Homo sapiens: one gene and its partners. The protein of the gene in region 1 purifies or fractionates together with the protein of each later gene. This does not show direct contact. Each region holds a gene or a part of one and is shown in the gene's direction. Other genes may lie near its edges. The genes, in order: TFG, EIF1AX, MAPK13, HEPHL1, VSIG8, NT5DC2 and PKP1.

Region 1 (3,500 bases):
ACCTTTTATATTTCAGGTCAAAGAAGGTTGCCTATTCTGAGCCCTACCTCTCCAAACAAAAATTTCCAATTTTAGATCAAGAATCAATGAAAAAGTTAGACAATTTTTCCAGAAGAATTCATAGATGCTGACACAACATTTGCATATAATTTCAGGGGATTTAACCATCTGCAGAATATTAAGAAGTGTAGATGAGAATTTAACCAGTATAGCCAATACTGTTCAGAAATTAGCTACAGTGGCCCACATTCTACTCTAAGGAATGGATTTATGAGTTTTTTGCTTTAGGTGAAACTTTTTCCTCACCTCTTTCTTGCTACTGTTTATACTTTATTCTTTGTGTCTATATTTTTTATACATACTGTTAGCTTTTTACCTATGTTAATGTAAAAGGTGTTAAAATTGGTTTCTTCTCTGCATTTTGGAAATCATGCCATATGTTGTTTTCTTGTATGGCCATTTTCTAGTTATTGTGTCCTGTCTGACATATCTGATGATAAGATGATATAAGAATAATACAATCTGCATTATATTTTTAGAGATAGTTCTTATTTTTTTAGAAAACAAAAACAACAAGAAAACCATACATCAGAAACTGAAATCTAGTCCACAAAATGAAATTGCCAATCAGCTATCAGTGCTATTTAGAACCTGTGGCTTACCCTCACCAAGAAATGTGGCCACCTGTGGTCTTCAGCTCTCTATTACAGCGGTTCTTGGATGCTTGTTTTCCTTTAAGAGGCAAATGATGTGTAAACTACCTTAGATAGAAGATTGACCTGTTGCAGTATCTCCAGCAGCTAATGGAGCAAGTAGTAGGACGTATAGTATGTTTCCTGATGGTTTTAGTTTGTGATAAGTGAAAAGAGGCATAGGTAGTGAGATGTGAGGGGAAACAACTTGTAAGACTGACGTGGTATGCTCTTGGGATTAGAGGAAGGAAGTTGGTAGGGAAGATAGATAACTGGTAGACATGTTTTAAAGGAATACTTCTAGTAGTAGTTTTCTTTTTCCAAACATTTAGAAAATATTAGGGTAGCCTGGAATGGTATGTTAGGAATGAATGAGCTGCCAGCCAGTGTGTGCTGTGGGTACTTATATTCGGTTTAGCACTTAACATTTTTTTCAGAAGATACATTTTGTATTGATTACAGGGGTGATCTAAGAACTGATGTTCATTTACTTGCTTGGTAACAAAAGTGATAATCATTGTCCCTTAATTGAGTAAATGGTTAGCAACAGTCTTTTTGTTTACTTGTTCGTGTTTTTTGTTTGTTTCTTTTGATGTCTTTTGTATCTTGGACTTGGATTCCTATTTGTAAAATGTATGTTAAAATTCTTGAACTCTTTTTCTTTCACAAGACAGTAGTATAAATGCCTGTGGAATATCTTAGTATCCTGAGAAGAAAAGCATGATTTTAAATTTAACCTGCTCATAATATTTGACATTTTGTTTTTCTGTTGTTGTTTTAAACATTTTATTATAGAAAAGTTTAAGTATATAAGAAAGTAGACATTATAATGAATCCCAGAAACCCACATCCAGTTTCAACAGTTACCAACTTATAGTATCATATAATTACACTATACACATTTCCGCCCCTCCTGTTACCCAGAGTGGAGTACAATCTCAGCTCACTACAAACTTTGCCTCCTGGGTTCAAGTGATTCTCGTGACTCAGCCTCCTGAGTAGCTGGGATTACAGGCATGCATCACTGTGCCTAGCTAATTTTTGTATTTTTGGTAGAGATTGGGTTTTGCCAGGCTGGTCTCGAGCTCCTGACCTCAAGTGATCTACCCACCTCGGCCTCTCAAAGTGCTGGAATTACAGGCATGAGCTGTTGCACCCGGCTCCCCTCCTGTATTATTTTGATGCAGATCCCATATACATCATTTCATCTGTAAGCATTTTAATAAGTATTTTAATAAGTAATACATATTAAAATAGAAGGTAGCAAATTCAAAAATGTTTTTAATGTGCTATTTATGGAAGATTATGAATTAATTATGGTTGGCTTGATTTCCATGTAATTTAATAGTGGACCAGTAGACAGTAGAAATAAAATGTAAAATTTGAGATTATAACCTTAGTTCAGTTTCTTTTTATAAAATAAAGCCTTAGTTCCTATAATTATTATTTCCAGAGTGCCCAGTGGGTATCTGATACTAGGATATAGGTTATTGGGCTCCAAAAAAACCAAAAAAAGTAAAATGTTTCTCTTTATCAAGGAGCTTGTATTTTTTTCATCTAATGTTTCTTACAAAAGGAGGTAAATAATTTTTTTGGAAAGCTTTTGTTCATCTTCTGTTTCTTTTTGCCCTCTTCTCCCTGTTACTAGAAGGAAAAATATAAAAAAAATAAAGGAATTAAAATGATCTGTAATCCTATATTCCGACATGCTTAACATTCCAGACTATCATTATACACCTGCATTATTTCCCTTGTACTTTTAGGCCTTACTGAATATAGATAAAAAGGAAACAAGTTTTTGTTTATTCCTCTATTTTTACAGATACTGTGGATGGTAGGGAAGAAAAGTCTGCTTCTGATTCTTCTGGAAAACAGTCTACTCAGGTTATGGCAGCAAGTATGTCTGCTTTTGATCCTTTAAAAAACCAAGATGAAATCAATAAAAATGTTATGTCAGCGTTTGGCTTAACAGATGATCAGGTTTCAGGTAAGTTGGTTTCCAACTCCTTTACACCCTTCGTTTCCTTCATCTTTCCGTTCTTCCCTTTCCTTCTTTCTTTAATTGAAGAATAACTTGGATATGGTGAAGTGCACAAATCTTAAGGGTTCTGCTTAACAAATTTTTACATATGTGTACACTTATGTAAAAGACTAACTAGATTAAGATGTAGATGATTTCCAGCACTTCAGAAAGCTTTCTTATGTCCTCTCCCCAAGAGTAGCACCCTCCCCCTTAAAGAATAAGCACTGTTGGGTTCAAGTAAATTTTTGAAAGTAAAATTTAGAAAGTTTTTAAAAATCTGAACTATTTTATAATTTGATTAGTTGCAGTATTCGAATTATATTTGATTTGTCTTATCTCCTCATCTTAGAGAAATTGAAAATTAAATGTAGATTTTCTTGTTAAATTGCTTGAGTATACAGTGGGTTTTTATATAAATAAGTTTTTAACCTTAAAGCAGTACCTATATTGTTTTATTCTGTTTAACTTTTGGTTATAATTTCTTCATTATTTTTTCCTGCTTTTTCTCTTTTCGGATTCTAATAACACATACATTGGAGAGCTTGATACTGTCTCATGGGTCATTAAGGTTCATTTTTCTTCAGTCTTCTCTCTGTTCTTCAGGTTGGGTGATTTCTGTTGAACTCTTCAAGGTCGCTGTGATTTCTAATATGCTGTGGAACCTTTCTAGTGAATTGTTTAATTGTGCTTTCAGCTCTAGAATTTCCATTGGGTTTTTATAGTTTCTGTTTTTCTGTTGAGATTCTTTATTTTACATTCATTAAGTCTATATTTTCCTTTAATTG
Region 2 (3,500 bases), on another chromosome or scaffold:
TTCATCTGATGTTCTTTTCCCTTCCAGATCTAAATTGAACTCAACATTTTACATTCCATCTTTTCTGAAGATTGTCCTACAATTTGGATTTTGATCATGACAAAGAAGATTAAAATTTCATTAGCATGAATGCAATTTGTTAAAGCAGACTGATTTGTTTCTAAGATATTTTTGGTTTTTTTAAAACTGATAATAATGCTGAATTATCTTAAGTGAGATGTTAAGCCCACTTTGTTCTTTTAATGTAATGGAGCTTATGGGTAGAAGACCATGTCTACTAATTACAAAAAAAAAAAAAAACCATGCATTGCTGCTTTTCCTACCACTTCCAGTAAGAAAATGGGTGTTTTGAAGAAATCATTTGCCTTGTCCTCACGGAATCTGATTAAGCCCTGGCCTCTTGATTGTATAGAGTCATTGTGTATATTCCAGTTACCTAGATATTCCCTTGAGATTTTGATACAATTTGAGGGAGGCAGAAGTCTGCAGTTGAAGAAAAAAAATAAGTCTGTTTGTCATATTTAAGTAGCCTGTGGCTATTTTTATACTGATTTTGATATCATGTTCTTTTCATAGTCGTATTTTGCCACCGTAAACATAAAAAAAAAAAAAAAGATTTCCAAAATGCCGTTTTCAGAACCTGGGTTTTAATAGCAGTATTGAATTTGTAAGCTTAGTAGTTGCAGAAATTGAACACTAGGTGGCACTCAGTTATCTTAACAGGGGAAGTACTGATACAATTGTTGACTTTTCTTTTACTATGTGTAAGAAATACCCCAAACATGAAAAGATTGTTTTGATCATATGCATGTATGTAGAATATTTTTGCAGAGCAGAAAGATTATGTTAGAAGTGTGATTTTTATTTTCAGAAGTCATATACATGTAAGCTACAATTTTGAGTGCTTTATAAACACTTAAGATATATATATAAATTTTAATTTCATAGCAACTTGTAAAAAATAAAATACTTGTTGAAAAGCCTTTTTCAACATATCCCTAAGCTAAGGGAAGAGGAAGGAATAACAACTCAGTGAAAAGATGGTCTCCAGTTTCTGAATGAAAAAGCTACAGCTGAGAAATAAAATAAAATGTCATGCTGCAGAATATGTTATACCCTTATTTTGTGTTAAGGATATATTTTATTATGTGAATGGTTTTGTTTTTGTTTTTTGTTTTTGTTTTTTGCTTGTATTGGGAATTAGCTTTACTGGTAACTTCCTTATTTAGTTTTTAGTGGTCAACTCTAATAAAATGAAACTAGGGCTGAGCTAGTTAGCCCTCACTAGCCAAACTGAAACTCTATGCAACATTAAAAGAAGAGATCCATCATGTAGCTTGTGACACTTTTATTTTATTAGTCACCGGGGAACTTTTCAGTGATGAAAATACACAGGGTAATAAACCTTCACATGGCTTCAAAAGGAAAACAAGCAAATCTTCTCTAATCTACTCTTACTATAATTTCCTAAGTGTACACCAAACTCTGGATTTAAAAATCTGAAGTACTATAGAACATTAAGTTGAAGAATGGAAATTAAGAGTACGTATTCATGGTTTATATTTCTTATTCTATGGAGTTCGTGAACACATCTAGGTGGAATGCATCTGAGACTAAGGGCTGGTTTTTAATCCTCATAAGAAACCAGCCTTGAAGAATTAACAATTCTCTTCATTGGTATTCTAAACCTCCTAAGATATTTAGGCTTCTGTACATAAAAGTGTTTTTGCTAAATTTACAGTATATATAGATCCTTTCATATTATTTTACTAAGAATGTTTGAACTTTGCATATTTGATATAGTTCCTGGTAGGAATAGCACAGCTCAAACATTAGTTTTTCTACTTACCTCCTCTAACACGTGGTTTGTCTGGAGAGTTTCTAAAAATTCAGCTATAACCCCAGTTCATGTATTTACTGGTGATTGTTCTTGCTGAGGTAGTAACAGCCCAATCTTGGGCTGTTAAATCCTAGGAAATCTCGAATCATAGTGATTAAAATAGTTGGGGTAAAGTTGTAGCTTATATGCAATACTACTTGGAGGAATTCTTCTACTAATTTGTATTTAATGTGGAAATTGTATAGTTTCATTGATTTAATCATAAATAATGGAAATGGTCTCCAAGAAGTTTTATTTTTCATTTTTTTGCTTATACACTCTGATTCCTATAATACAGTGCTATAAGCTATGCACAGAAAATAAAATGTTTGAAATCCAAGAATAATGGTTCTTACTGCTAAGAGGGAGTAATAGTTATTACTAATGATTTTGATTGGGTTGCATTTTTGTTGCAATGTTTATTCCACTTGCAGTTAGAATATGAATATGTTTTATCACTAGTGTGGCTAAATAACCAAACATTTGTGTAAAAAAAAAAAAAAGCCAAGATTTCATTGTTTGTTGAATATTTCTTAAGCATCTGGCCCCTAAAGAGACCGCTTCTTACCAAGCCTGTAAACTATGCATGATGGAAATTCTTGTATTTTATTTAGGAATGGCTGTTGGTTTACTCACCACATCTGTGGAATCATGGCTATAAATGTTTGCTTACAAACTCTTTGTGACTTGTAATTTAACTTAATCTCATCTAATGTAAATATTAGATTATGATGTTCAGTAACATCTTCCATAGGTATAAACTGCTGTCATTATTGATTTCAGAGTAACTCTGAGTAATCAAATAGGTAAAAGCATGTTTTGAGTAAAATAGCTAGATTTATACTTTACTTGTATACAGACTTAACAACAACCGGTATTGACTGGATTGACAGCTAAAGTATCAGAATGAAAGCAAGGTTTTTTTGATGTTACCTGACTGTCATAAAGATGAAAATGATTTGTATTGGTATGAAATGCTTATCTTTATTCTACTTCGTAAGGGTAAGTTTTATTTATACTCTTTGGACTCCCATGAACTTTTGCACACTGCTTTGTGTTTTTGGTTTACCCTAAACTACCATCCTTTTTATCTTTGCTTTTTTTCTTCCTATTCAGAAAAGAGCAAAATGTGAAAAGACACAAGACTCTCAGGTATAGAATGAACTGAGCAATTTGGAGAATGTATTGGACTTTGTCCTCTCTTATTCCCCCCTCCTAGCCCTGCAAGTTGCTAGGTACTTGTGAGGCAGTGTACTGGAGAGGGGAGAGCATGGATCCTGGGGTCAAAGGGCCTTTGCCCCCACCCTTACTTGGCCCTCTACCTGCAGGTGACCACTGGCACATTCTCCTGCTTGTCTCAGCTTCAGGTTCTTCACCTCTAAGATGGGGATGATGAAAACAGTACCTGTCATGCAGAATTGTTGGGAGGATTGATAATTTAGATGTTTATACATGTAATGTACTTAGATCAGTGTCTGCTCTTTTCACTTGATATCCAGTACTATGTAAGATAGAAGGTGCATGTCTTCTGTATTCTGTATTTCCCATTTCTTTTGCGTGCAGTCTTTGATTCGTACAATAGAAGGAACACGTAGAATGTATATTTGTACATTCATGTCAA
Region 3 (3,500 bases), on another chromosome or scaffold:
TTAAATAACTGTCTTTTTTTTCTTAATGTGAGAGTGATACATACTCCCTGTAGAATAATTTGTAAATGCAGATAAGGCTGGACGCAGTGGTTCATGCCTGTAATCCCAGCACTTTGGGAGGCTGAGGTGGAAGGATCCTTTGAGCCCAGGAGTTTGAGACCAGATGTGGCAACATAGGGAGACCCCATCTCTAAAAAAGTTTTTTAAATTAGCCAGACATGGGCCTGGCGCAGTGGCTCATGTCTGTAATCCCAGCACTCTGGGAGGCTGAGGCGGGCAGATCATGAGGTCAGGAGATCGAGACCATCCTGGCTAACAAGGGGAAACCCCGTATCTACTAAAAATACAAAAAATTAGCCAGGCGTGGTGGCAGGCGCCTGTAGTCCCAGCTACTCAGGAGGCTGAGGCAGGAGAATGGCGTGAACCCAGGAGGTGGAGCTTGCAGTGAGCTGAGATCGCGCCACTGCACTCCAGCCTGGGTGACAGAGCAAGACTCTGTCTCAAAAAAAAGAAAAAGAAAAATCCCAGCTACTTGAGAGGCTGAGGTGGGAGGGTTGAGCCTGGGAGGTTGAGGCTGCAGTGAGCTATGATTGTGCCACTGTACTCCAGCCTGGGTGACAGAGGGAGACCCTAACTCAAAAAAAAAAAAAAAAAAAACAAAATGTTGGGTGGGCATGGTGGCTCACACCTATAATCCCAGCACTTTGGGAGGCCATGGCAGGCGGATCACCTGAGATTAGGAGTTCGAGACCAGCCTGGCCAACGTGGTCAAACCCCATCTCTACCAAAAAATACAAAAATTAGCCGGGTGTGGTTCACGCCTGTAATCCCAGCTACTCGGGAGGCTGAGGCAGGAAAATCGCTTGAACCCAGGAGGTGGAGGTTGCAGTGAGCCAAGACTGTGCCACTGCACTCCAGCCTGAGTGACAGAGTGAGACCCTGTCTCAAAAAAAAAAAAAAAAAAAAAATGTAGATAAGCAAAATGATGAAAAATTCTACCACTACGTGGAAAATACATTTTGGCACGGCACACATTAACTGAGTACCTGTGTGTGCAGGGCAGGCCTTTGGTGAGAAGACGAGGAAACAGAAAAGAGTCACTGGGATGAAGGCTGAGAAGTCCACATCCATTTGTTGGGTAGGGACCCCCCTCAGCCTGGCACGTTGGAAAGCTCTCCAGAGCCCTGAGCCCTGAAGAATAAGCCTCCTCCTGAGAGCAGGAGGTGGTTAGGCAGGGCTGGAGCCTGGATGATCAGTTGCCATGGTGCCCGGGTGAAGTGATGGTGGGGTCGCAGGAAGGGCAGTCTCAGACCCACCAGGAGAGCAAGGCTAAGCCTTAACCTGCCACCAAGACCTGGACCAGCTGACCCAGATCCTGAAAGTGACCGGGGTGCCTGGCACGGAGTTTGTGCAGAAGCTGAACGACAAAGCGGTGGGTGGTAAATGGGACCTAGGCTGGCCTGGGCTGTGTGCTTGCCTGACGTGGGCCCAGTGGGCTGCAGGCCTTTGTGGAAGAAGGCTCACCAGCACCTTCCCACAGCATCCTCCTACCCTGGCAGGCACTCTTGTCTTAATCTCACCGTGGACCCTGACCTGAACTTTCAGCCCTGCTCTGAGGCTTTTCTGAAATCCCTGCTCTACACGCTGAGGCCAGAGCCCTAAGGGGTTTGATGCTTTTCTGTCTTCCAGGCCAAATCCTACATCCAGTCCCTGCCACAGACCCCCAGGAAGGATTTCACTCAGCTGTTCCCACGGGCCAGCCCCCAGGGTGAGTCTCAGAGCCCGCTCCCCAGGGGCCTCTCAGCGTATCCCAGAGGGCGGGCTCTCCCAGCCCCTGGTGTGAGGCTCTTGGCTCTGCCCCTGCAGCTGCGGACCTGCTGGAGAAGATGCTGGAGCTAGACGTGGACAAGCGCCTGACGGCCGCGCAGGCCCTCACCCATCCCTTCTTTGAACCCTTCCGGGACCCTGAGGAAGAGACGGAGGCCCAGCAGCCGTTTGATGATTCCTTAGAACACGAGAAACTCACAGTGGATGAATGGAAGCGTAAGAGCTGGGGCCTCGGGCTTCCTCGCCTCCGCCTGCAGCCTCTCTTCCTTGCTTCCTCCATCTTTGTGCCTGGCCTCTGCCAGCCCTACCTGCCACCTCCTTCTTGGTGGGCATTGTCTCCTGGGTGCTTCTTTCTCCTTGAGCTGACTTCGCTCTCCATGCTGTCTCTGAAGGGGGGTGGACTTTCTCGCCACAGCACCTCTTTACGCACCTTAAACCATGCTGCCTTTCTCAGAGCACATCTACAAGGAGATTGTGAACTTCAGCCCCATTGCCCGGAAGGACTCACGGCGCCGGAGTGGCATGAAGCTGTAGGGACTCATCTTGCATGGCACCGCCGGCCAGACACTGCCCAAGGACCAGTATTTGTCACTACCAAACTCAGCCCTTCTTGGAATACAGCCTTTCAAGCAGAGGACAGAAGGGTCCTTCTCCTTATGTGGGAAATGGGCCTAGTAGATGCAGAATTCAAAGATGTCGGTTGGGAGAAACTAGCTCTGATCCTAACAGGCCACGTTAAACTGCCCATCTGGAGAATCGCCTGCAGGTGGGGCCCTTTCCTTCCCGCCAGAGTGGGGCTGAGTGGGCGCTGAGCCAGGCCGGGGGCCTATGGCAGTGATGCTGTGTTGGTTTCCTAGGGATGCTCTAACGAATTACCACAAACCTGGTGGATTGAAACAGCAGAACTTGATTCCCTTACAGTTCTGGAGGCTGGAAATCTGGGATGGAGGTGTTGGCAGGGCTGTGGTCCCTTTGAAGGCTCTGGGGAAGAATCCTTCCTTGGCTCTTTTTAGCTTGTGGCGGCAGTGGGCAGTCCGTGGCATTCCCCAGCTTATTGCTGCATCACTCCAGTCTCTGTCTCTTCTGTTCTCTCCTCTTTTAACAACAGTCATTGGATTTAGGGCCCACCCTAATCCTGTGTGATCTTATCTTGATCCTTATTAATTAAACCTGCAAATACTCTAGTTCCAAATAAAGTCACATTCTCAGGTTCCAGGTGGACATGAATTCCAGGGGGAAATGATTCAACTCACTACAGACAGCTGGGAGGGAGGGGCCCCTTCCTGGGCCCCGTGCTGAGGCCTTGTGCTCTGTGAAGGAACCCAATGTGTTTGGCTGCTAAATTAAGGGAGTTGCAGAGAGAGCTGCAGCTGGTGCGATTGCATTCAGGTTATTTTGGGTGAGTGATAAGCAATCAAGATATGAAACAACAGCAGGCTCGGAGACTGCGAGCTGCACAGGCAGAAATGGGCTCTTGCCTGGCTTGATGGCAAACCGTTCTGCTCCCTTTGGGAGATGGCACAGCTCTCCAGAGCTTTGACCTGACAGTGGCTAGAACCTCTCTGTTTTTATCTGAGAAACTTTGGCAGAACAAATTTCCATGTGCACAAGCTGTCGGGCACAGTGGGTCTCAAATTTCCTTGTGCACCAGGGGACTTGTTAAAATGCAGATT
Region 4 (3,177 bases), on another chromosome or scaffold:
TATCTTTTCATTCTCTTAACAGCTTTCAAATAGAAGTTCTTAATTTTTGATGAAGTAAAATGAAGTACAATTTTTCTTTTTTCTCTTTTATAGATCATACTTTTGGTGTCATGTATAAAAAATTTTGGCCTTACTGAAGGTCCCAAAAAAGGTCTCTGTTTTCTTTTAGAAGTGGTATAGTTTTAGATTTAGGGCTCTGATACATTTTAATTTTCATATGTGGTTCAAGATATGAAATAAGGTTCATTTTTTTTTCATATATATGTCCAAATGTTCCATCACCACTCATTGAAAAGATCATCTTTTTTTCCCACAGAATTGACTCTTTACTTTTGTGAAAATCATATTGACCACATATATGTGGGTCTATGTCTGGGCGGTCTCTTCTGTTACACTGGTTTATACTCTGCCCTTTCTTGAATGCCACAATGTTTTGATTACTTTAGTATTATAGTAAGTCTCAAAATCAGATGGTGATTGTTTTAGCTATTCTAGATGTTTGCCTTCCCAGATAAATTTTAGAAATAATTTGTTGATTTTGATTTTTAAAATCCTGTTGGGATTTTGATTGGTATTGCACTGAAGCTATACAATGGGTTGGACAGAACTGACATAACAATATTGAGGCTTCCAATCCATGAACATGGTATATCTATCGTTTAGCTCTTCTTTGATTTCTTTCATCAGCATTTTGTAGTTTTCAATATAGAGATCTTGCATATACTTTGTTTTATTTATTTATAACTAAGTATATAAAAGGCTTTGGTAATAGTGTAAATGATAGTGTTTTTATTTTGATTTATAGTTGTTTATTGCCAATATTTAGAAATATAATTGATATTTGCATGTTGACCTTGCATCCTGCATCTTTGCTAAACTCACTTTAGTTCCAATAGTTTTCCTATAGATTTTAGGGGGATTTTCTATGCAGACAATCATGTTGTCTGTGAATAGACATGGCTTCATTTATTTTCAATCTGTATGTCTTTTATTTCTTTTGTCTTACTGCAATGGCTAGGACCTGTAGTGCAATTTTGAATATGAGTGGTGAAAGTGGACATCCTCAGTTTGTTCTTAATCTTACAAGGGGAGCATTTAGTCATTCACCTTTGAATATAAAGTTAGCTGCAGCTTTTTTGTGGATCCCATTATGAGGTTGAGGAAATTTCCTTCTAAATTTGCTCAGAGTTTTGATCATCAACAAATGTTAAATTCTATCAAATGGTTTTTCTGCATCTATTGAGATGATCAGATGCTTTTTCTTCTTTAATCTGTTGCTGAATTACATTTATTGATTGTGGAGTTTTTAAACACTTTTTCATTCCCAGGATAAACCTTACTTGGTCATGATGTATTATTCCTTTTTGTGGAATTGATTTGCTAGTATTTTGTTATGGATGATGGTATCTATGTTCATGAGGAGTATTGATTGTAGCTTTTTTTCCTCACAAAGCATTTGTTTAGTTTTGGTATCACAGTAATGCTGGCCTCATAAAATGAGTTGGAACTGTTCTTTCCTCTTCTATTTTCCAGAACAGTTTGTTTACAATTGGTATTATTTCTCCATTAAATGTTTGGTAGAATTTGCCAATAAAGCCATCTGGAGTTTAATTTGTTGGAATATCTTGAAGCAATTACAGTTTCTTTAATAGATATAGTGCTATCCAGGTTATCAATGTATTCTTGAGTAATCTTCAGGAGTTTGTGTCTTTTAAGGGATTTGTTCATACCATCTAAGTTGTACAATTTTTGGATAAGAGGTGTTTGTCCAGTATTTCCTTTTTAATATTTGTAAGATTTTAGTGATGTCCTCACTTTCATTCTCAGTATTTTTAATGTGTCCTTTTCCCTTTTCCCTTGGTTAGTCTGTCCAGAGATTTGTATTAGTTATCTATTGCTGCATAACAAATTACTCTAAACTTAGAGTAATTCTTGGATCAGGAATTTGGGATTAGTTTAACTAGTTGGTTGATTCAGAATCTTTCATGAGGAGGCAATCAAGATGTCGACTGGAGCTGCAGTTTTCAAAGGTTTGACTGGAGCTGGAGGATCCACTTCCAAACTTACTGATATGGTTGTTAACTAGAGGGTTCAGCTCCTGATCATGTGGATAAGACATGAAAACTGGCTTCCTCCAGTGAGTAATCCAAGAGAAGAGGGTGACAGAGTATCTAACACAGAAGTAATGATAACCTAATCTTGGAATTGGAATGCCAGCACTTCTTCCACATGCTATTGATTTCGCATACCAACCCTTATACAATGTAGGTAGGAACCACAAAGGTTATGAATACCAGGAGGTGGGGATCATTGTGGGCCATCATGGAAGCTGGCTACTACAGAATTTATTGATTTTATTGATCTGTTCAAAGAATCAGTTTTAGATTTCTTTGACTTATCTCTATTGTACTTCTATTCTTGATTCCTGCTCTTTCTTATGTCCTTCCTTTTGCTTACTGTGGGTTTTATTTGTTTTTGCTCTTCTTTCTGTTCTTGCTGTTCTGAGCAAAGAAGGCTACTAGCTGTTGTTTTTTAAAACGTTTTTGCAGATAGATAAATCTTACCGAGAAGATGTGTATGATCTCTTTCCTGGGACATTCCAAACCATTGAACTGTTTGCAGATCACCCAGGGACATGGCTGCTACACTGTCATGTGTCTGACCACATCCATGCTGGCATGGAGACAACCTACACGGTCCTTCGTAACATAGGTACGGTTGTCTGTCAGTGATGCCAGATGATGGCACCGAGCTTCCTGTAGACCCCCAAAACAGGAGGCATGACAAAAACCCAGATATAGCCCTCAACAAGCTCAGAGTCAAGTAAGAGAGACATATATGTAAATATGTAACTATAATCAAGTATGCTATGTGCCGTAGCAGAATGCAGAGTACAGGGCTTAATAGCAGCAGTAGGAGTGAATGGGTAACAGTTGGAGGATATGAGCCAAAGTTTCACAGAGGCCATGATGCTCCAGATAGACTCAGTGGGTGAGCAGAAGTGGGAAAGACAGCTGGGGCAGGAAAGCATGTACATGGGAATGAAGTAGCACAGTAAGAATCCAGAAATGATTGGCAGATACTGATGGGATAAGTCCTCGCTGGTGAAATGAAATGACTAGTGTCATGAAAAGAATCCCCTTCTGTTGTTAATAAAACAATGAACTTGTTTTCTTT
Region 5 (4,300 bases), on another chromosome or scaffold:
TATCCCAGCTTAGGCACCAGCCGCATTGGCTGAATCCCCATGTTTCTCCAGGTCTCTGTTTCCCCATCTGTAAAATGGGGATAATGATCCCTGCTCTTCAAAGGGAGCAGGACAATCCCATAAACCTAAAAATAAATAAGGAAATAAAGATATTCATTGTGTACATCTGGTAGGTCTCAGAGCGCCCTGTTATTGTTGGGAGTTCAGGTGCAACGGCTTGGAATGCAGAGACGCGTGGACTCCTTGTGTTTCCTTAATGTTCTGACTTATTTTTCCCCAGAGGGGTGGGCCCTGGCAGCATCCCTGAGCCCCATAACTCTCCCTAACACTCTTCCTCCTCTGCCCTTTCTGTGCCCCATGGTAGGGATGGGGGCAGTCCCTGACTCCTTTGAGGGAGTTGAGCTATTGAATGGGGTCACTCATGTCCTGACTCCCACCATGGAGTCCAACAAGGCACATGCCCATTCTGTCCCCCTTAGACAAGCCAACAAGGGGTGGCCCTTCACTTGCTCCCCATGCCTACCAGGACCCTCCCCACCCCAGCACGAACTTACCCAGAACTGTGCTGGTTTAGTCAGCCCGATGACCAGTCCAGGTTATGAGGGTCCTTGGTCTCAAGGACCCAGTTAATACTGGGACTGCATTAACCCTCAAGACCTGGCTACTCTTTCTGGGCAGAGAAGCCAGGACACCAAGCGATCCCTCAAGAAGTTCACTCAGAGGGGCTTAGCCATCCTCACAGAGACACCCTGACACAGACATCCTGCCTCCCTCCCACAGACATTGCTGAGGGGTGCACACGCTTACACAGGCACCCCCTTCCCTGGTCCTCTTGGCGCTGTTCTCTCCAACACTCCCTCACTAGCCCATCAGTCACCTTACTCCTAGCACACACCCTGGACCCCCCATAGCACCCCTGCTCCCAGGGGTCCCCTACACTTGGGGATGGCCTTGAGTCGAGTATGGGTGTGGAGGACAGTTCCAGAGGGGACAGCCAGGAGGAGACTCTGTTCCTGCACACACCCCTTCTCTCCTCTTTCAGCTCAGGAGGCCTGAGTCCCTTTGAAAGGCCTGAAGCCTGGGGGAAGGTGGGCTGGACACTCCTGGGGAACCCTATGCCCTGGGATCAGGATTAACTCTTCAGGTCCTGGCCACTCTTTCTCCCAAGCCTGGCTTCTCCTTCCTCTTCCCCACTTCCCCCAGGGAAGGAGGCAGCAAATGAGTGGTGAGGGGAGCCCTTGGAAGCTGTAAATGAGGTGACTGTTGTCACCCTGAGGATGTGGCCAGGAGGAAGTGAAGTTTAACAGGTGCCTAATTACAAGTCCCGCTGGCTGTCCTGTGCCACTCTTAGGACAGGGAAGAGCTTGGGTGAGGGCTGGGTAATGCCCAGGTAGGCCACCCTGTCACCCTGCTAATTAGGGTTCCTGGGACTCCTCCCCAAGGCGGGGACCAGGCCCCCTCCCTCCCATAGAAATAACTCCAGCTGCTCCCCAGCTGGGCACTCATTGCACCTTCCTGCCACCCCAGGCAGTGTCTGGGCCCTCAGCTCCCCCTCCCTCCACCTACCCCCTCACACCCACCACTACGACCCCACGGGATACCCAGCCCAGACGGAGGAAACACCGAGCCTAGAGACATGAGAGTTGGAGGAGCATTCCACCTTCTACTCGTGTGCCTGAGCCCAGGTACGGGGCTGGGCAGGGGGCAGGGTAGCCAGCATGAGGCTAGGTGGGAAGGAAAGGGGCAGCAAGGGCTCACAGTGGAGCCTGGGGCTGCCTGAGTTGCCTGGCAGGGTGCTGCCCACCCTTGCCCTGCTGCAGCCGGGTGTGGGTATTACCAGGGGACCTTTCCCCAGGAGACCCTGTGCCTGATGTTCAGGGTGTGTGTCTGTAGTGCAGAGGTCTTTGAGTGGATCTTTATATGTCCCCTGTCGGGCTCACACATGTGTGCAGGTGCCCTGCAAGCTCATGCCGTGACTAGGAGGAGAGGGATTGATTGCTCTGCAGGAGCTGGAGGTGGGGTAGGAGAGGGGTAAGCACGGGCATTGGGTGAGGGCTCAGGAGGAGCTTGGGAAGGATCAATTTTCATCAGACTGTGTGCTATTCCCAACGCTACTCCTTCTCTCCCAAGGCCAGGGCCAAGGGGCAGGGAAGTCACTTGCCTTGAAAGGGCAAGAGACTAAGTCTGGTGTAAGTCTGAGTGGTTTCTTCCATCATGGCCAGTGACAGCTCAGGCCTGAGACCTCAGCCTTGGGCCCCCTGTGCTATGACAGGGCAGTGCCCCACTCTAGGATGAGGCCTGAGGGTGGTGGGGATGGCAACTCCAGAGACTTCTCACCCCACCAGGACAGGTCCACAGGGCAGGGCTCAAGTTTGGACATTGTGGCTTCCTGCCCAGGTTGGGGCAAGTTCCACCAAGGGGCATTCTATGCCAACATCACTGGAAAGGGCTCCGAGTCCCTCTTGCAGTCTGGATTTGGGATGAAGGGGCATGAAGGAGGAATTTGGGAAGGCGGGGTGACATTTTCAGCCTTTGTGTGAGCGTGAATGTGTATGTGAGTGTGTGGGTGCGTGCACCTGCATGGGAATGATGACATTTCCGGCAGGATAGCTGCAGCCCTTCTCTGTCTGATGAGAGCAGGGCTGGCAGAGTCCACTCGGGAGGCTCCAGCTGTGCTGTGGGGACCCGGACTTCCCCCTGTGTGGTGTGTCAATGGGTGTGTGAGGACAACTCAGCACTGGCTGCATTAACGCATCAATACCCTCAGCTGGAGCCGCCTTTTCTCCCCTCCCTTACCTCCAGAGGGAAGATCAGGAGTTCTGGAAGCACCTTGAAGATTCAGAAAGAATTTGCAAGCAGAGAGTAGGCACCACTATTGAGATGACACCCCGTAAAGCATGGCCAGTTTCTGGTGCTTTTGGGGGGCAAAGAATCACCACTGTCCTCTTCCTTGGAGAGCCCATGTGATTCCTCCATTCCTGTCTCTCCTCAAGTCTCCCATCCAGCTCTCTCTTCCACTTTGCCTTTCTTCCCTCTCTCCAGCCTCTCCTCTCACATTCCCTGTAGTACTTCCTTAGTGCTACAGCAAGAGGAATCAAGGTGAGACATTAGGAGCAACTTCCCAAGGAGAGGGAGGGGTGCGGAAAGGCTGGAACCCTTGGGAGGAGGTTGAGAAGACTTCTAAGGAGATAGAAAAGCTGGGTGAGGCTCCCTGGTCTGGGACAATTGAAGAATCTCTCAGCCTGGTGCAGGGTGGAGGTGCTTTTCTTGCAGCCTGTCGCTCCTTCCCAAGCCCCTCTCCCTGAATGCTTACCATCCTGCCTGGCAGGCTCCTATGGCATGGAGAGAGTCCTTCCTGTGTGGGTGCTTCCAGCGGTGCTTCTCCAGGGTGGAGCCTCTGCTCTCAGCCGAGTTCTGGCTCATCCCTGGCTTGCCTTGAGCAGCCTCAGGATCTGGCAGATGGCAGCAGGATCCTTATCTCAGGAATGAGCTGTTGTTCTCTTGGCCTGGAGCTGGAAGAGGCATCACTAGGTCCCGTTAGAGCCCCAGCAGTCAGCCTGCCTGCTCTGGGTCACCTTGGAGTCTAGCTGGGTTATGACAGAGCTGATGGCCCAGCCAGTGTTCCTAGGGGGGATGTTCAGGGATCCCTGAGCTGTTGAGGGTGTTGAAAGGGCCCTTGCTGGCCTCTCTGGAGCCAGGCTAAGCCTTCCTGGCAGGGCTTCCATAGATATGTCTGGTCTTGAATGAACACATACAGGGACTATATGAACACACGGTGGGTGTGTCTTTTGAATTAATATGTTCTGTGTTTGTGTGCAGATTGTGTCTGTGTCTGAATGAATCTATATAGTGTCTGTGTTTGTAGGAAGGTGGGGCCATATAGGTATGTATCTGCATTTTGAAGCCTTGTAAGAGTGGGCCACGTGCCGATTTGTTTGCCTGTGATGGTGTAATTGTGTGTGTGCATGTGTGAGATCTCTATGTGTAAACATGGTCCTGAGCCACATGATAGAACAGAATGATTGCTGAGACCTGGGGCTGTGACTCCAGAAGACATGTTGACTCAAAAAAGAACGCAGACGGAGAGTGTGTGAGGCCTGGTGAGGGGCCTGCAGAGGCAGGGTTGCTGGAGACTGGGAGGTGGAGGGCAGAGTGTCCAGGGTGGGGCCCTGGCTACACCCCCCGGTCTTATCCCTCTCTAGGTCCAACCGGTTGGGGATAGGCCTGCCTGGGGCTTCAGGGTAGGGAGGGACAAGAGCTCAGTCCTGAGCTCCTGGGTCCTGGGATCCTGGCTCCTCAC
Region 6 (3,485 bases), about 48 Mb from region 1:
GGGAAATTGGGGACAGGATGCTCATAGGCTCAGGAAACATATCACCCATTTAATCCTGCATATGTGCAGGTGCAGAGTGAGATTGCTGCACAGAGCAGCACCTTCCATATGACAGTCTTAGTAATTCTGTAGGTTGGTACAATTTTTTTTTTCTTTTTAAAAATGTTTTCACAGAGACAGGGTATCGCTATATGGCTTAGACCAGTCTTGAACTACTGGGTTTCAAGCAATCCTCTCGCCTCAGCCTCCTGAGTAGCAGGGACTGTAGGTGTGTGCCACCATGCCCCACTTGGTACAATTTTTTGTACCCTTTTAGAAACTAGGAAACAGGCCCAAGAGGTGAGGTGACATTCCTGAAGTCATAGCCATGAGAGGGAGGGCCTGGTCTTGTCTGGCTGACCTCATTGCATGTGGCCTTCCTAGCACATCTCCTTCCCTTTCCTTTCCCTTCCACTTTCTCCATTGTACACATAGGGAAACCAGGGCAGGTAACATGGGGCCTCTCAGCCCCATCTGCCTCCTTGGGACCCCAGAGCCCATGCCACACAGTGCTCTGCTCAGCACCCTGCTGTGGGCCTCAAAGCCAACTGCAGCCTCCTGGGAGCAGCCAGGGACTTGGGGTGGCCACGACCACATCCCCAGAAGGAGCAACCTGGATAATGGCCCAGAACCTGACATCACGTCCTGACTGTCGTAATTAGCAATGTTCCCTGGCTAGAGCCAGCAAATGTCATTATATGGGCTTGCGGGCAGCTGAAATCTGATTAGAGGGGCCTCACTCTCCCTGGGCTGTGGGAAGTGCACAGAGCTGGCAGCCCGATCGGCAGAGGGGCTCCCCCTCCCACTAATGTTCCTGAGCCCCAGTCCCAGCTCTGGGCAAGGTAGAAAAGTCAGCATCCATGGCCTCAACCCCCTAGTCTGGCCATACAGAGCCAGCCCCTCTGGGTTGGAGTCCTCAGTGCCCACATGGTATCCTCACACATAATCCCAGGGAGGCTGAGAGATGAGGCCAGGGGGCAGGGCAGGGCAGCTGAGAGGAGCAGAGGAGGCGCTGAATTGTGGGGGGCCAGACAGTGGTGTTCCTGCACGGGTTTTGAGCAAGTGGGAGGCTTTGCTTTGTAGAGCATCCCAAAAGCAGCTGTTCTGGGGCTAGGCGGTGAGGAGTTGAGTGACTGCTGCCAGGGTTCTAGCATGGCCTTGTGTCTGATGGGGCTTAGTGGTGAGGGCCTGGAGTAGTCACGGGCTCAGTATACCTGGTGGGCTATAGGAGATAGTGTAATGTAGGCAGGTGTAACCATGAGGAGGAGCTCCAGCCAGGGGCTCTGCCTTACCCTAACTGCGTGACCCTGGGCAAGTGACTTCTCTCTGGGCCTGTTTGACCATCTCCAGCACTGGAATAAGAGGTGCCATTGTGGGGCGTTTCTGAGGCTCACAGGGCTAGGTCCCCACAGAGTGCTCAGGAGCCATAGCTGCTGCAGGGATCATCATCCCCATCACTGCCTCCCTGCATCTCCTTCCTCTAGACCTCCTGCCCCCCGAGGTCTGCAGTCTCCTGAACCCAGCAGCCATCTACGCCAACAACGAGATCAGCCTGCGTGACGTTGAGGTCTACGGCTTTGACTACGACTACACCCTGGCCCAGTATGCAGACGCACTGCACCCCGAGATCTTCAGTACCGCCCGTGACATCCTGATCGAGCACTACAAGGTGAGACGGGGGTCCTTGCCACCAACAAACCCAGGGCTTGGAGGCTGGCCAGACCCACCTTGGCCTAAGCTCAGGGCTGAGTCGTGGGGCTCCCCTGGCCCTCTTGCCTGGCAGCTGCCCTGGGCAGGTGGCTGGATTGACCCCCTGGGGTGGCCACCCAGCCAGCAGGTCTGGCAGGGCTATTGGCTTAGGCCTGGCCCCTTTCCCCCGGCAGTACCCAGAAGGGATTCGGAAGTATGACTACAACCCCAGCTTTGCCATCCGTGGCCTCCACTATGACATTCAGAAGGTGAGTGGCTGGACCTGTATAGGGGCTCCCTCCTTGGCCTCCTCTTGGTATGGTCATTACCCCTCCGTCCCATCCAGCTGGGGTTCTGGCATGGGCTGAAAGAGGCTGGCTTGGGGCCACGGTGAAACTGCCTCCTCACCATCCGTCCTGCCTCCCTGGCGCCCCCAGAGCCTTCTGATGAAGATTGACGCCTTCCACTACGTGCAGCTGGGGACAGCCTACAGGTCAGTCGGCTCTGCCCCAACCCCACCCCCGCCCCACCCTACACTGCTGTTCTGGCTCAGGACTACCTTGGACTGATGGTATCTTGGGCCTGCTCAGGGGCCTCCAGCCTGTGCCAGACGAGGAGGTGATTGAGCTGTATGGGGGTACCCAGCACATCCCACTATACCAGATGAGTGGCTTCTATGGCAAGGTACTCCATACCCCAGCAGCCAGCCTGCCCCATGGACATGTGCCCATGTCCCAAGGCAGATTTGGGGCCCTCGTCTCCAGCACTGAAGGGGTTGGGGTCCCAAAGGGTGTCTGAGACAATGGCCCCCTCCCCAGGGTCCCTCCATTAAGCAGTTCATGGACATCTTCTCGCTACCGGAGATGGCTCTGCTGTCCTGTGTGGTGGACTACTTTCTGGGCCACAGCCTGGAGTTTGACCAAGCACATCTCTACAAGGACGTGACGGTGAGGATGCTGGGCCTGCCCTCGGATGGCAGGAAAGACTAAGTCCAGCCACAGTGGGACAGCCCCACCTGGGCCCTGCTGTACCCTCATTGTCCTCCACTGCCCCCAGGACGCCATCCGAGACGTGCATGTGAAGGGCCTCATGTACCAGTGGATCGAGCAGGACATGGGTAAGTGTGGACAGAAGCCCTGCCGTGGCCGGCCTGAGCAGGTGGCAGGACTGACCCTCACAGACTCATCTGCCCCATTAGAGAAGTACATCCTGAGAGGGGATGAGACGTTTGCTGTCCTGAGCCGCCTGGTGGCCCATGGGAAACAGCTGTTCCTCATCACCAACAGTCCTTTCAGCTTCGTGTGAGTCCAGCCCCTGTGGATGGAGGGACAGCAGGGCCAGGGCTCTGGGTGGGGAGGGCAGGCACGGAGCCGCCCTCAGACTACTTGCCACCTGAAACTCCTCCACACAGAGACAAGGGGATGCGGCACATGGTGGGTCCCGATTGGCGCCAGCTCTTCGATGTGGTCATTGTCCAGGCAGACAAGCCCAGCTTCTTCACTGACCGGCGCAAGTATGGGCATGGTGGGGGTTGCAGGGCCAGGGAAGGGGAATAGAGGCCCCACCCCAATGAGGGGACTGAAGCAGGAGGCCAACCTGGCCCTTGCCCACTGCCCAATGTGCTTGGGGTGAGAACACCCCCTTGCTGGCATGGGTCCACTTGAGCAGGTGGGCCTTTACGGAGGAGGGATGGGGGTTGCCCGGCCCGTGGCCCAGCCACAGACTGGAAGTCATGCCCTTTACCTGCACCCCAGGCC
Region 7 (3,500 bases), on another chromosome or scaffold:
AGATTTCCACTCATCCTAAAGAAGGAGCTGCCTCCAGTTTCAAAGGTTTTGAGGCGAGAAAGCTTGAGTTGCACCGATGACACAAGAAAGAATCAGCCTGTCGTTGTCTAAGGCACCAAAGGGAAGCAGTGTGCCAGGACACTGGTGACCTGAGCGGTAGATTTTCTGAGATGGTTTTACACCCTAAAACGCGGATGTAAAATCAGACGAGCTATGTGGACAGAGCAGGTTGTGTTGCTTGTATACCTGGGAAAGTGGCAGATGCTCTGAGGCACTTGCTCCTTGACCTTGGGGTTCTGTGGGTGGGCAGATGCTTCCTGAGGATGGCACACAGGTTGGGCACACTGTCAGTGTCACCGAGAAGCCACCACATCCCTGCTCATGCTGCATGCACCCATATGGGGAGAAGAGGGGCAAAGCAGATGCTTAGCTGGAGGGTAGGAGTGATTCTGTGGGGTGAGCTGGGAACTAGCCCCTCCCCCATTCCCCAGGAACTAAGAATCCTCCTCAAGGAGGTGGCCTTGGGTATTTGAGAGCTGCAGCAGCCCTCCTCTCTTCCTGGTTTACCCCACTCACCAGGGACCTCTTTGAGTGGGAGGAGAGCCTGACCCCATTCTAAGCCTCTAAGCACCAGGCATCAGAGCACGTTCACCACAAGGGTTGGGCAAGGGAGAAGAGGTCATTGACGCAAAGAGCCAGCTCAAGCCAGTCAGGCCCAGACCCAGCTGGGGCAATGCCCTGAACTCAAGGTCCCAGGGAAAGAAAGACATGGTTCGCACTTCAGAGAGTGTCCAAAGTACATGGTGGTGGAGACTTGTACGGGCGTGAGATGGAGATGGGAGTAGGCGTCATTCATCAGGAAAGGCTTCCTAGAAGTGCATTCTAGAGACATCGGGGACCAAGTGGAAGAGTGAGCTAGCACCATTACACTCATTAGAAGCCCATGCTCTTGCTATTGAACTTGACTTTTAGAGGGCATTACTTACCAGTCAGACACCCCAGGGTCAAGAGAGGGAAAATCACTTTTGTTGTGGGAGCAGTGCTCTTACAGACAGAGCACACCTGCCCCCAGTACTCCTTGGTTATCTGGCACACTGCGAGCTGTGATTTCAGGTGTGTGACAACTATGGACTTTTCCCCTCTCTCACCACCTCCGCCCCAAATACTGTCACCTTCTGCCAGATTAGCAGTGCAGGCAGGTGTGATGTTACCCTCATTCTCACCAGAGCCAAGCAGACCCCAACTACAGATAGGTCTTAGGAGATGCCTTCAGGAACTGCCTGGAAGGGCCTGCAGGCCACAAGTGAGTGACAGTCACACCTGCCTTTACCAGAGTTCATGCTGGACATGGGGACTGGCTTTGGGAACTGCAGGGCATTCTGGCCTCTCCCTCCATGTGTCTGTGTGTCCACTGCCACCTCCATGGCAGAGAGGCCTCTACCTTCATACAGAGAAGAGTGTATGAGAGGGAGGCAGGCAGGTGCAGGGTGTGGCGGGAGGAGATGGTTAGTCTGATGACCCATGGGGAGAGCAGCATCATGCTGACAGGTTCTCTCCCAGAAGACGGGCAAGAAGGCCCTGGTGCAAGCCCCCCGGGGCTGCTTCTCATAGCAGGAGGCCTCCCCGGTGCTCCATAAAGTTCTGTCTGTCACCACCCCAAATTTTCCACCCAGAAGCAGCTGACTGACCCACACCTGACCTTTGGTGAGAAATACCTGCTCACAGGGCCAGATCCAAATGAACTCTATCCTATCAAACCTTGGAAGAATGATCAAAGTGGGCTGGGTGGAAGGGAGGCAGACAAGACCTGGTGGTTGGCCACCTAGGGTCCTGACTATGAGTGTGCCTGGCTGCAGCCCCCTTCCTTGGGAGCACCAGTCCTGAGTGACTGAGCCCATGAGATTGCCTCCAGCCTCTTCCTGATAAGGACAGTCTTGCCAGAGGAGCGGTTGCTGGAGAAAGGTGGAGGAAGAGCTGTGTGCACTCTACAGGGAGCTTGGAGGAAGCCAGAGGTTCAATGGGCCACATGGCAGAGTCCCAGGATGTTGCTCATAGGCGGATGGCCCTTCTGGAGTCAGGGCTAGGCCTGGAGTATAGGGGAGGCCTCTCAGAGGACCCTGAGGCAGGTGGCAAACGAGGCGGTAGTGTGGCCTTTGATGTCTGCCCTTCTTCCTTGTAAGCTGAGCTGTGTCTCTGGAGAGGAGGAGTCGGCTCCTCTGAACGCAGTCAGGCACGTGTCACTATCATCACACCACCACAGGGCAGTGGAACTGTACGGGGCCTATGGGAGGTAAGAGGCCAACCCTCTCTTTTGACAGAAGAGGACACTGAGGCTCAGAGAGAGCAAGTGACTTGCCCAGGTGCCAGAACCAGGACAAATATCAACACCGCTAGGCCCCCAGGGCAAGCTGTGTCTGCCACAGCTTGAGACCCCTAATGTCCATGATGGAAGGGTGCAGAGAGTTGGGCAGCACTCTCTGCTGTGGGCTATGGGTGGTGACCTGGCGCTGGACAGGGGAGGTGGCACGAGGTGGGGATCCCTGCCTCATTCCAAAGCTGCCCCTTGGCTATTCCCTCTACTCCCAGCTCAGATATTCCAGCCCTGCTCCCCCAGGCAATGGCCGGGGAGCCTAAGTGGGTGTGGCAGATGGGGAGGAGCTACCTTGGCTGGGTGAGATCACTGCCCAACTCTCTTCCCCACAGACAGGGTTTCCGATGGGGGAGTCTGACCATCGCTTTAGAGAAAAGGAGTGCATATCCCTCTTAGGAGGCTCTCACTGGATCCCACTCACCTTCATCCCCCAAGGCCATCACTTAACAAGAGTGTGGGCCAGGCCACGGAGCCATGGCTTGCTCTTCGTGGAGCTCCCAGTATAGCTGAGGGAATGGGACGCAGGGCAGAATGAGACTTGGGCTACCAAGAGCAGGACAGTATGTGTTTAGAGGCAGGAGAGATTGCCTTGTGCAGAACTGATCAGAAAGGGCTTCCTGGAGTGGGTGAGGTCTTGAGCTTGGCTTCAAAAGATGAGCAAGATTAGAAGGTAGTGGCCAAGGAGGGAAGGCAGGTTTGGCATGGAGGGAGATGTGAGTAAAGTGGTGAGCCTGTCACCATTGGCCATATTTCAAGGACAGCAGGACAGTGAACAGACCAGCTTGTGCAGAGTTGATGCTATCCCTTAGGGTGTCCCTGCTGGCCAGTGAAAGGGAGATGAGGGGGGTGGCCCCACTAGGAGCCCCAAATCCAGTTCTGTTTTCTGTGATGCAAAGCCACTTTGCCACTAATAACCCTAATGACACTCTGTCCTCCTGCGGAGCCTGTCATTTGTGGGTCTCCAAGCACTCCGAAAACATTAATTAATCCTCACTGGGCCTTTGAGGTTGATCGCCGCTCCCCCTTCACCAGCCAGAGCATGTTAGAGGTGAAAGAATGGGAGGAAGTTTGGTCACTGGTAGGGGCTGGGCTGAGATTTGAATCCAGAGTCCTGTCCTGAATCAATCTC

The links.
Region 2: the proteins of TFG (region 1) and EIF1AX purify together in Homo sapiens (affinity purification with mass spectrometry, with the first as the bait; one large-scale study listed by BioGRID). This does not show direct contact.
Region 3: the proteins of TFG (region 1) and MAPK13 purify together in Homo sapiens (co-immunoprecipitation; one large-scale study listed by IntAct). This does not show direct contact.
Region 4: the proteins of TFG (region 1) and HEPHL1 purify together in Homo sapiens (affinity purification with mass spectrometry; 3 studies listed by BioGRID and IntAct, with this or other methods). This does not show direct contact.
Region 5: the proteins of TFG (region 1) and VSIG8 purify together in Homo sapiens (affinity purification with mass spectrometry; 3 studies listed by BioGRID and IntAct, with this or other methods). This does not show direct contact.
Region 6: the proteins of TFG (region 1) and NT5DC2 fractionate together in Homo sapiens (co-fractionation; one large-scale study listed by BioGRID). This does not show direct contact.
Region 7: the proteins of TFG (region 1) and PKP1 purify together in Homo sapiens (affinity purification with mass spectrometry; 2 studies listed by BioGRID and IntAct, with this or other methods). This does not show direct contact.

The regions. Positions count from the first base shown.
Region 1 is NC_000003.12:100,729,994-100,733,493, forward strand, and holds part of TFG (protein TFG), read left to right. Parts: intron 1-2,514; coding exon 2,515-2,679; intron 2,680-3,500. UniProt on the Homo sapiens protein: Plays a role in the normal dynamic function of the endoplasmic reticulum (ER) and its associated microtubules. Required for secretory cargo traffic from the endoplasmic reticulum to the Golgi apparatus.
Region 2 is NC_000023.11:20,124,839-20,128,338, reverse strand, and holds part of EIF1AX (eukaryotic translation initiation factor 1A, X-chromosomal), read left to right. Parts: intron 1-27; coding exon 28-33; 3' UTR 34-3,500. UniProt on the Homo sapiens protein: Component of the 43S pre-initiation complex (43S PIC), which binds to the mRNA cap-proximal region, scans mRNA 5'-untranslated region, and locates the initiation codon. This protein enhances formation of the cap-proximal complex.
Region 3 is NC_000006.12:36,137,013-36,140,512, forward strand, and holds part of MAPK13 (mitogen-activated protein kinase 13), read left to right. Parts: intron 1-1,352; coding exon 1,353-1,432; intron 1,433-1,689; coding exon 1,690-1,768; intron 1,769-1,866; coding exon 1,867-2,043; intron 2,044-2,281; coding exon 2,282-2,361; 3' UTR 2,362-3,500. UniProt on the Homo sapiens protein: Serine/threonine kinase which acts as an essential component of the MAP kinase signal transduction pathway.
Region 4 is NC_000011.10:94,108,354-94,111,530, forward strand, and holds part of HEPHL1 (ferroxidase HEPHL1 precursor), read left to right. Parts: intron 1-2,549; coding exon 2,550-2,712; intron 2,713-3,177. UniProt on the Homo sapiens protein: Is a copper-binding glycoprotein with ferroxidase activity. It oxidizes Fe(2+) to Fe(3+) without releasing radical oxygen species. May be involved in the regulation of intracellular iron content.
Region 5 is NC_000001.11:159,859,858-159,864,157, reverse strand, and holds the start of VSIG8 (V-set and immunoglobulin domain-containing protein 8 precursor), read left to right. Parts: upstream 1-1,500; 5' UTR 1,501-1,636; coding exon 1,637-1,685; exon of another isoform or gene 1,686-3,512; intron 3,513-4,300.
Region 6 is NC_000003.12:52,527,373-52,530,857, reverse strand, and holds part of NT5DC2 (5'-nucleotidase domain-containing protein 2), read left to right. Parts: intron 1-1,523; coding exon 1,524-1,708; intron 1,709-1,922; coding exon 1,923-1,997; intron 1,998-2,165; coding exon 2,166-2,221; intron 2,222-2,318; coding exon 2,319-2,412; intron 2,413-2,546; coding exon 2,547-2,675; intron 2,676-2,784; coding exon 2,785-2,845; intron 2,846-2,926; coding exon 2,927-3,029; intron 3,030-3,139; coding exon 3,140-3,241; intron 3,242-3,482; coding exon 3,483-3,485. UniProt on the Homo sapiens protein: Promotes dephosphorylation of tyrosine 3-monooxygenase TH which decreases TH catalytic activity and leads to reduced synthesis of catecholamines including dopamine, noradrenaline and adrenaline.
Region 7 is NC_000001.11:201,290,006-201,293,505, forward strand, and holds part of PKP1 (plakophilin-1), read left to right. Parts: intron 1-3,500. UniProt on the Homo sapiens protein: A component of desmosome cell-cell junctions which are required for positive regulation of cellular adhesion.